3 separate regions of the Homo sapiens genome follow, and all the other regions are linked to region 1. Evidence: fine-mapped expression QTL. A gene starts in region 1. Each other region holds a variant in brackets. All regions are shown on one strand. Distances are between the middles of the regions.

What was found. PIP is the estimated chance that this variant, and not a neighbour inherited with it, causes the effect.
Region 2: its variant is the best candidate, but not a certain one, in a credible set for the expression of TRIM68 in subcutaneous fat (TwinsUK, PIP 0.55).
Region 3: its variant is the best candidate, but not a certain one, in a credible set for the expression of TRIM68 in whole blood (INTERVAL, PIP 0.53).

Annotation. Positions count from the first base shown.
Region 1 is chr11:4,606,901-4,609,665 of GRCh38, forward strand. TRIM68 (tripartite motif containing 68) reads right to left here and starts at 1,331. Exons shown (of 7, transcript NM_018073.8): 1 at 1,127-1,331. RefSeq lists silencers at 896-975, 1,286-1,495.
Region 2 is chr11:4,564,756-4,567,520 of GRCh38, forward strand. No RefSeq gene overlaps it. Among named protein-coding and RNA genes, the nearest start is that of C11orf40, 12 kb to the right of the region's middle. The variant C/T (reference allele first, on the strand shown) is at 1,058.
Region 3 is chr11:4,581,738-4,584,502 of GRCh38, forward strand. It overlaps OR52I2 (olfactory receptor family 52 subfamily I member 2), which reads left to right and starts at 6. Exons shown (of 2, transcript NM_001405760.1): 1 at 6-127. The variant A/G (reference allele first, on the strand shown) is at 1,450.

The sequences.
Region 1 (2,765 bases):
TGGCAGGGCATGCCTTCTCACTAGACTCCCTGCCTCCTGCTTTTCTTCCTCCCACTATCACTACCAAACTGTGGGATCCAGTATCCTAAAACCTCATTTTGGTAAATCACTAACTTACTAAATAATCTATCCTGGCTCCCGGTTAACAAGATCTCTCCTTGAAACAGCACCTGTGCCCAGCTAGGCAAAGGAATAAACTTCCACACACTCCCGCAAACCCCTCGTCCATTCAATCTACCTGACTTGGGTGCCTGCTATTCTCCCAGCTGAAAATGACTTCTACATGATCCTGCCTTTGACGTCATTTGCCATGTATTCGTCTATTGTCTTACTTCCCATACTAGAACTTTTTCATGTGGATAGGGTCATTGTCTGTTTTGTCCATTTCTATTTCCCCAGTGCCAAGAACAGTGCCTCAAATACTTGTTGAATACGTGAAAACTAAATGTAAATGTTGAGTTCCAACCGATAGTAGATTGAAAGTGGAGGATGTGTTAATATCCTTAGCTAAGTCAGTAGAGACATTAAGAGACACCATCTAAAGTCAATAAAACAATAAATGGAAGTTGATACCCATTATTTAAAGCTACAAATGGAAGACCTAAAATAGCGATGGAAAATTGACAAGATTGTGGCAGTAAGAAAGTAAGGCAAAGAAATATCAAAATGATAAATCCAGAAATACAGTGGAACGCATATTATTTTGATTTAGGGTGCTAAAAACATCTAAATGGGGACAAACTAAAAGTGGCAGCCTCTGCAAAGATCTGGGGATGGGTAGTTACTGCTCTTCAAAATAAGACCTGCTTTAATGTTTGACTTTTTATTATACATGAATTACTTTGAGAAAATTCAAATAATTAAACGTTCGGTTGCTTTGACTGTGCCTTCCGTAGGGTACAGCGAGAGTCTGAGAAGGGCATTTGAGAAGGGGGCGGGGCCTGGAAGACTTCCAGTTAGGACCCCAGCGGGAAGGGAGTCGAGGGGCGGGCGGTAACCTCCGGAGTCAGGGAGCAGCTCCTGGCCTGGCCACAGGGCGTTGGGCAGGTCCCCAGGACAGCGGGCGGGTGGGGGTAAAGTGAGCGTGCGGGATCTGACTTCAGAAAAGGCAGAGTTATCTACCCACCTCCCTCCTCGGCCCGGACTGGCGCTTCGCGGCGGAAACTCAAAGTGAAGAAGCCTGGTTCCGCAGCGTCCAATGGCCCAGCGTCAGAAGCTGCCGTTCCCGGCAGCTCAGCACTTAGGGCCAGAGAGCGGCAGAGGCCCAGAACCCAAAGCCCGGCAGCGCAGGCCCAGTAGCCCGCAGCTCCCAGAATACTACACCCGGCTCTAGGCCCCGCTCGCGGGACGGCAGCCAATGAGCGGCCGGCTGGGCCCAGGTTGGCTTCGCCCAGGGGGCGGTGTGTTTGTGGGGGCAGCCAATCACAGGCAGGGACCAGGGTACCCCTAGCCAATTGGTGATGAGACGGGGGTTTCGGCGCTTCTAGGCATGTCAATGTTTTTTCTCTACTTCCTGGGTTTTTCTGGTCCCTTCACCGACTCAGATTCCCTTAAACTGTAGAGGGTTCTAGGAGTTAGTTCTAGGATAGGTCAAAGGATTGAGGCTCCCAAATGATGCCGCTCAGGCACTGCATTAAGAGAGGCTCAGGTGGCTATTCATTTGCCAGTTTGACTTGTTAAACTCAGAAGCCTGAGATTGGCCAAGTCTGGTTCTGTGACCCATCTTAGCAAAGGGTTGGGCGCACATATGGTGTGGACTCTGCTGTTCCTGGCAAGATTCGCGACCTCTCATGGTTCCAGGCTTTAAATACTGGGTTCTTAAACAAAACAAAACAAAACAAAACAAAACCCTCTCTTTTTTCGTTTTTACTTCAGCAACCAGCTTGTCATCACTATTGCCACAATCCACTTTTAGAGTGAAAAACAGACAACAGAGACCGGGAGTTGATGGAGAAATGGAAACCCTGGTCAAAAATTGTCATTAAAAAAGGAAAAAAAAATTAAACAACTGGTATCCCTTCCTCACCCAAACACATAGACACATGCACGCACACACAAAAACTGTTACTTAAGACAGTGATATGGGTTTTTCTTTGTACTCCCAGGGCCTTGTCCTTCTCTTGACACTTAGGTTTTAATAAGCAAGTGAAGGCACCTCCTATCCGCATAGAAAATAACCAGGAAATCTTCCAATTGAAGCTCGGTTCCAAATTATATAATATCTTAATTGTTAGGACAGATACTCCAGAATGCTCATGCCAGTGTCTGAGCCCCGGCCATGGTTAAAATTCTGAAGGGTGAGGCCCAGAAATTTCCTGCAACAAATAGGTCTATGAGAAAAAACAAAAGTATCTTAGGTCTGAGCTGTACCCTCTGTCTCACCCAGTTTTGGAGAAATGGCTGCTCTAATAGAATAATGAATGGATTAATTGAAATAAGCCATTTTAAACATTTATTTAACATCAATTTTCTTGACAATATTTTACTGGGTGCTGGGATTACAACTATGGGACATATAGTCTCTGCCTTTAAGGAGCTGAAGGTCAAGTTGGTTGTACTGCTCTGGAATCTCTGTGAAGTTAAAACAGTTAATGGGGAGATCATTTTCATGTGTAAGGTGCAATTTGTAACTATGACGGACTGTCAAGAACCCTGGCAATCAGGGTAGCTGGGGGTGGGGGCTTGCGTTCATGTGGGGAAGGCTGGAGAGAGGGCTTTTGAAGACAGACCAGTTTACTTCCAAGGCATAGAAGCTTTCCTTTACA
Region 2 (2,765 bases), 42 kb before region 1:
AAGTCAGGAAACAACAGATGCTGGAGAGGATGTGGAGAAGTAGGAATGCTTTTACACTGTTGGTGGGAGTGTAGATTAGTTCAACCATCATGGAAGACAGTGTGGCAATTCCTCAAGCATCTAGAACCAGAAATACCATTTGACCCAGCAATCCCATTACTGGGTATATACCCAAAGGATGATAAAGTCATTCTACTAGAAAGACACACGCATATGTATGTTTATTGCGGACCTGTTCACAATAGCAAAGACTTGGAAACCACCCAAATGCCCATCAATGATGGACTGGATAAAGAAAATTTGGCACATGTACACCATGGAATACTATGCAGCCATAAAAAATGAGTTCATGTCCTTTGCAGGGACATGGATGAAGCTGGAAACCATCATTCTCAGCAAACTAACAGGAACAGAAAACCAAACGCCTCATGTTCTCATGCATGGGAGTTGAACAATGAGAACACATGGACACAGGGAGAGGAATATCACATACTGGGGCCTGTCGAGGGGTAGGGGGCTAGGGGAGGGAGAGCAGTAGGATGAATACCCAATGCATGGAAGGCATAAAACCTAGATGGGTTGATAGGTGCAGGTTGATGGGTGCAGCAAGCCACCATGGCATATGTATACCTACGTAACATTCTGTACATGTATCCCAGAATTAAAAAAAAAAAAGAAAAACGCCATGTAACCATCACAACACTCAATTTCTCAATGCTTTCCCTTTTTCACTCTAGGGAGGTCAGCTCTAGTGCAGATATAAATCTGAATGACTTGGTGTTAGTCATCTCCTATAGCATTTTGAGTTCAAGGTACAGCCTAAATGCAGAGCAGGTCCCTTGAAGTTTATAGGCATTACATGCGGTTAATACACTTAAAGGGCATGAAAGCACAGCTATAGGAATAAGCTGTTAACTTCTCTGGACTAGTAGATTGACAGTTACAATCCAGCTTGATTTTCTCCATTAGGAGCTTATTTTTATGTTAATCCTAGTTATGGATACAGAACTCAATACTTCTGGCTTTAAGGCTTTTATTCTGAACTGCTCCTTTCTCC[C/T]CTTCCCAATTCTTGGACTCAGAACAAGTGGGAGGATATAAGAAATGTGACTAAGTGCTTGACCTTTGCTGGGACAAAACTGGATAGTTCTGGGTTCTTCGAGAAATACTCAAGTTTTCACATTTATCTTAACTCAGGAAATTCAGTCTTTCGGTCACTCAGCTGAATTTCTAGTTGTGTGGATAGTTTGTGTGGAGGCCCCACTGTGTTCCCTAAGGCTACTCTACCCCCTACTCCAGAGCCACTCTTGGCAGATGTTCATTATTTTATGGCTCTTACCTAAAAGGAAAATGTCAGCCCAAAACTAAGGCTTCGAGATTAGGACAGTTATAGCTAATGGTCTTTTCCCATCCTTAGTGACAGTGCTGAACTTTTAATTCATACATGAGATTGAAGGAAACCAGATTATGTTACCCCAAAATATGCCTCAACATAAGAAGTTTGAACTAAAGCAATTAAGCAGCAAACAGGAGAGCTCTTTCCTCCCCACTTTCTGCCTAAAAATAGGCTATCAGTCTACAAACCTTACTCCATTATAGTTTCTTCTCAGGTATTTACCATTCCAGTTTCCTGCCTTTGGAAGCCTAAAGGTCACTTTGTTTTGTTGTTTCTCTACAAGTATATTTTTTTATTTTTTTGCGGTGGGGGGCGGGGGAGGGGGGGAGTAGGGGGGCATGCTGGAGATGCTACATAAGCCTAAAGGTCTAAGCCTAGGGTTATCTTTTGAAGTTTTGGCCTTGTGATATGCACGACAGGACACATTAATAAACTTGTTTTCTTGATAAATCTGTTCACTGTTACAGGAGTCTGTCCCAACCATGACCTTACCAGGGTTGAGAAATTTTCTTCTCCAGTGAAACATAGCTTCCTACTCAGACTGCAACCTCTATGCCTTGAGTCCTATTGAATAACTTTGGCTAAAAGCTTAGCGTTTTACAAGTAGATTCATTTACCTCAAAAAAAAAAAAAAAAAGTCAGTATTCGTCTGTAATACAGAATCCATTACACAAATGCCACAAACATGGACGAATCTTAGAAGGGCCTATTAGAATCAAAGTTGAACATACAGGGTTAAGAGCAGCTTTTAAAGACTGAGTTCTAAGCATCCCCAAAACTTTCTAGGTGTGAGGTTTGTGGCAAACTAGCGTAACTGCTAGCTCCTTTTTACCAAGGTCAGTCTGAGAAGTACCACCTGTACAAAAACACAAATTAGACTTCGAAGAAGGCTGGGCTGAAGAGTAATGGTAAGTTTTTGAGGTGTAGCCTTGGCCAGAAACAGGAGATATTCAAGCACAGCTATGGGAAGATGCAATAGAAAGCAAACTGAGAGTTTGGGCCTTGTTAGTCGCCTGCATTGCCTTGGAACAAACAGTGCCTAGTTAACACTTGCATGAACTCAGAGCCCTGGTTCGTATGTCCCCAGAAATACATTCAGGGCAGCAGGGAAGCCCTGTGCTCATGAAAGCCATGAAAAGCAGGTAGAGAGTGACTTTAGGCAATAGTGCTCCCACCATTTTTTCATATTCTCAGCACTGGTTACTTATTCATGAAGAATTCTTCTTAGATCTGCTTCTCCCTAGGGGCCATAGGTTTCATTTTGCAGGGAGGGAAGGTTTGCTATTCATTTTTATTTTATTATTTTTTTAAGACGGTTTTGCTCTTGTTGCCCAGGCTGGAATGCAATGGCACAATCTCAACTCACTGCAGC
Region 3 (2,765 bases), 25 kb before region 1:
TTTGTGTCATTTTTTCCTGCTCCTCTTGAAGAGTCCTGTACAAATCCCTCTTCTTCTGAGTAAAAGAAATGTAGACTACCAGGCATCAACCCATCAGGGAAAGTTGAATAGAGAAGATTCCAAGGATGTAGGTAACTGACCTGGGAATCAGGTGTTGGGCTGATAGAGATCGAATGTTGGGCTGATGACCTGACATCAAGGCTGGGTCACCCCAGAATGAAAGTTATAAGGCCTCATGCCTCCCATATAGGGCTGTCTAGGTCTGGTGGTATATCTGCTATCAAGACCTTATGGAAATGATGTTTGGATGAGGGAGGTGGAGAGGGAACGGAAATATGGTTACTTTGCTTCAAAGCAGAGACAGGAAAGGGTAAGTCCAATTTTGAGCTGGTGGAGTAACAGTTTTCAGGGACCAAGAGAAGTTATAAGAAAATAATCCAAGCAATAGGGGTGACTGGGAGTATGCTTGGTTGGACAGTGGAGGTACTCAGGAAAAGGCACAGGGTTGTCATAAAGGGAAAGGCTCTACTCAAATGAGTTATGCATTAGTTCTTTTACCTTTAAGACAATTTCAACTTGAATTATGTACTTCCCACTCTTTTAATAGAAATGAAAAATCCTCACAGGTCTTGTGCTTTGTGAATCATGAGTTATTGACATTAAGAAACTTTTTATTTTTATATTTATTTATTTTTCATTTTTTTTTTTTTTTTTTTTTTGAGATGGTGTCTCCATTCTGTCATACAGGCTGGAGTGCAGTGGCATGATCTTGGCTCACTGCAGCCTCCACCTTCCAGATTCAAGCAATTTTCATGCCTCAGCCTCCTGAGTAGCTGGGACTACAGGTGCTCGCCACCATGCCCAGCTAATTTTTTGTATTTTTAGTAGAGACGGGGTTTTGCCATGTTGTCCAGGCTGAACTCCTGAGCTCAGACAATCCTACCACCTCGGCCTCCCAAAGTGCTGGGATTACAGGCTGAGCCACCATGTCCGGTCGAACTTTTTAAAGCTACTTTTCGGTGATTGGCCCTCCAGATCTGCACGTGAATGTTTCCACAGGATTAAAAACAAAGGCAGGTGCAGTGCTAGAAATATGTCTTAGGAGAACTTGGACAGAGCATTCTGAAAACAGTATGCCTTACCAGCCTGAGAGCAATAGTATGTATATCTTGATTTGTTCCTACATAGGTGTGTTCATGTGTTCACATTGTAATTATTCATCTAACTGAACATTTGAGATTTGTGCATTTTCCAGCATGTCCATAATGGCTCAAAAACAAAACCAGAAAGTGAAGGAACAGGCAGTTGTGTGAGATGTTTTGGTAAAACAGGAAGAAAAAGAGTCACTGGCAACAGATCCTTGATGGAGATGACATTTGATCTTAGCCAAGAAATTTTCAGTAGCAATACATTGAGTAAAATAAATATTTTAAAAAGAAACAGCCAACA[A/G]AATCAAATATCCTGTTCTTTGAAAAGATTACTAACAATTAAATCTCTAGCAGTGCTAATTAAGAAGAAAAGTAAATGAAGAATTAAAAAAAAACCCACCACTCTCGAAGGCATGAAAGGTATGCCCAGTTAGTTTCCAGGGCTGGTGAGAGGAGGGATGAGGCAAGCATCAGCTGAGGCTGCCTCCTGAAGAAAGGTGAATTTACACAGGGCAGCCAGGGTAGGAATATCCTGGATCAGAGGTGAGTGGGGAAGAGGCTGTTTGGATCCTCAAGCTTTCTGCAGCCCTTTATGCAATAATGCACAAGCCTAAGTTTGTGGCATTCAGAACACATGCGGCAGTTTCAAGCATATCCTGAATTTTCTTTCACTCTTTACTACCATTCTACTTCAAAAGCTTTCCCTAATCTTCTTGTGATCCATCACTTAAGATGTCTCGCCCAGTGTCCCAGCAGTTTACAGTGAGCTCCTATAAACTGACTGTGATGTGGAGCTCACTACTCTATTCAATCTGTTCCATGATATAGCATTTCTTAAACTCAGGGATTTTCTTCTTGTTGTAGGTTTATTTCTTTTATACAGACCACAGTTTGTAATCATGTCCAAGAATTTTGGCTTTTTAGAAAACAACTGAGGACTCCTATCACAGCTGTTGTTGGCACCTGGGTGTGGAGTCAATCAGTGCTAGGCTTTCTAGGAGGTTAATTGAAGGGGCAAATATATGTCTTTTGGTTAGGATTAAGAACCTGGTAAATGTTCCTCTAGTGCTTGGCTAACAGAGAAAATGTCTACTGCAGTAGATGGGATTCTGAGCATAGAATTCCATTAATCTGATCTATTTCATCACTCAGGTAGAAGTGATGCCCCGATGAGAACTTAAAAAGGGGAAACTAGAGACAGTATACAAGGGTAGGGATATGGCAGCTTCTTACTATGGAAACCCTTTATTCAGGAGAGGCACAGGAAGAAATAGACAAAGCAAGCTAGTCTTGAGGCTTGGCAAATAAGCACACATCATTTAAGAGTGCCTGAACACCTAAGACAGTTCTTGGGCTATATATGACTACTGTTACGTCAACACAAATCACACAATTGATGTGGTGAACTACTAGGCTGAGGCCTTGAGAGATACAAATTAGAACCATGAGGGTTTGAGAAAAGAGATCACGTGTCCTTAACATATTCTAGTCCATTCTTGGCATCTGGAGTTCAGGTCTGTGACCAACCTACATGTCCATTTCTCTGGAAGCAAAATGATCTAATGGCAATAGGAAAAAGAGTTGAAGTAGCAATTTAGCCTGAAAAAGAAATATTTG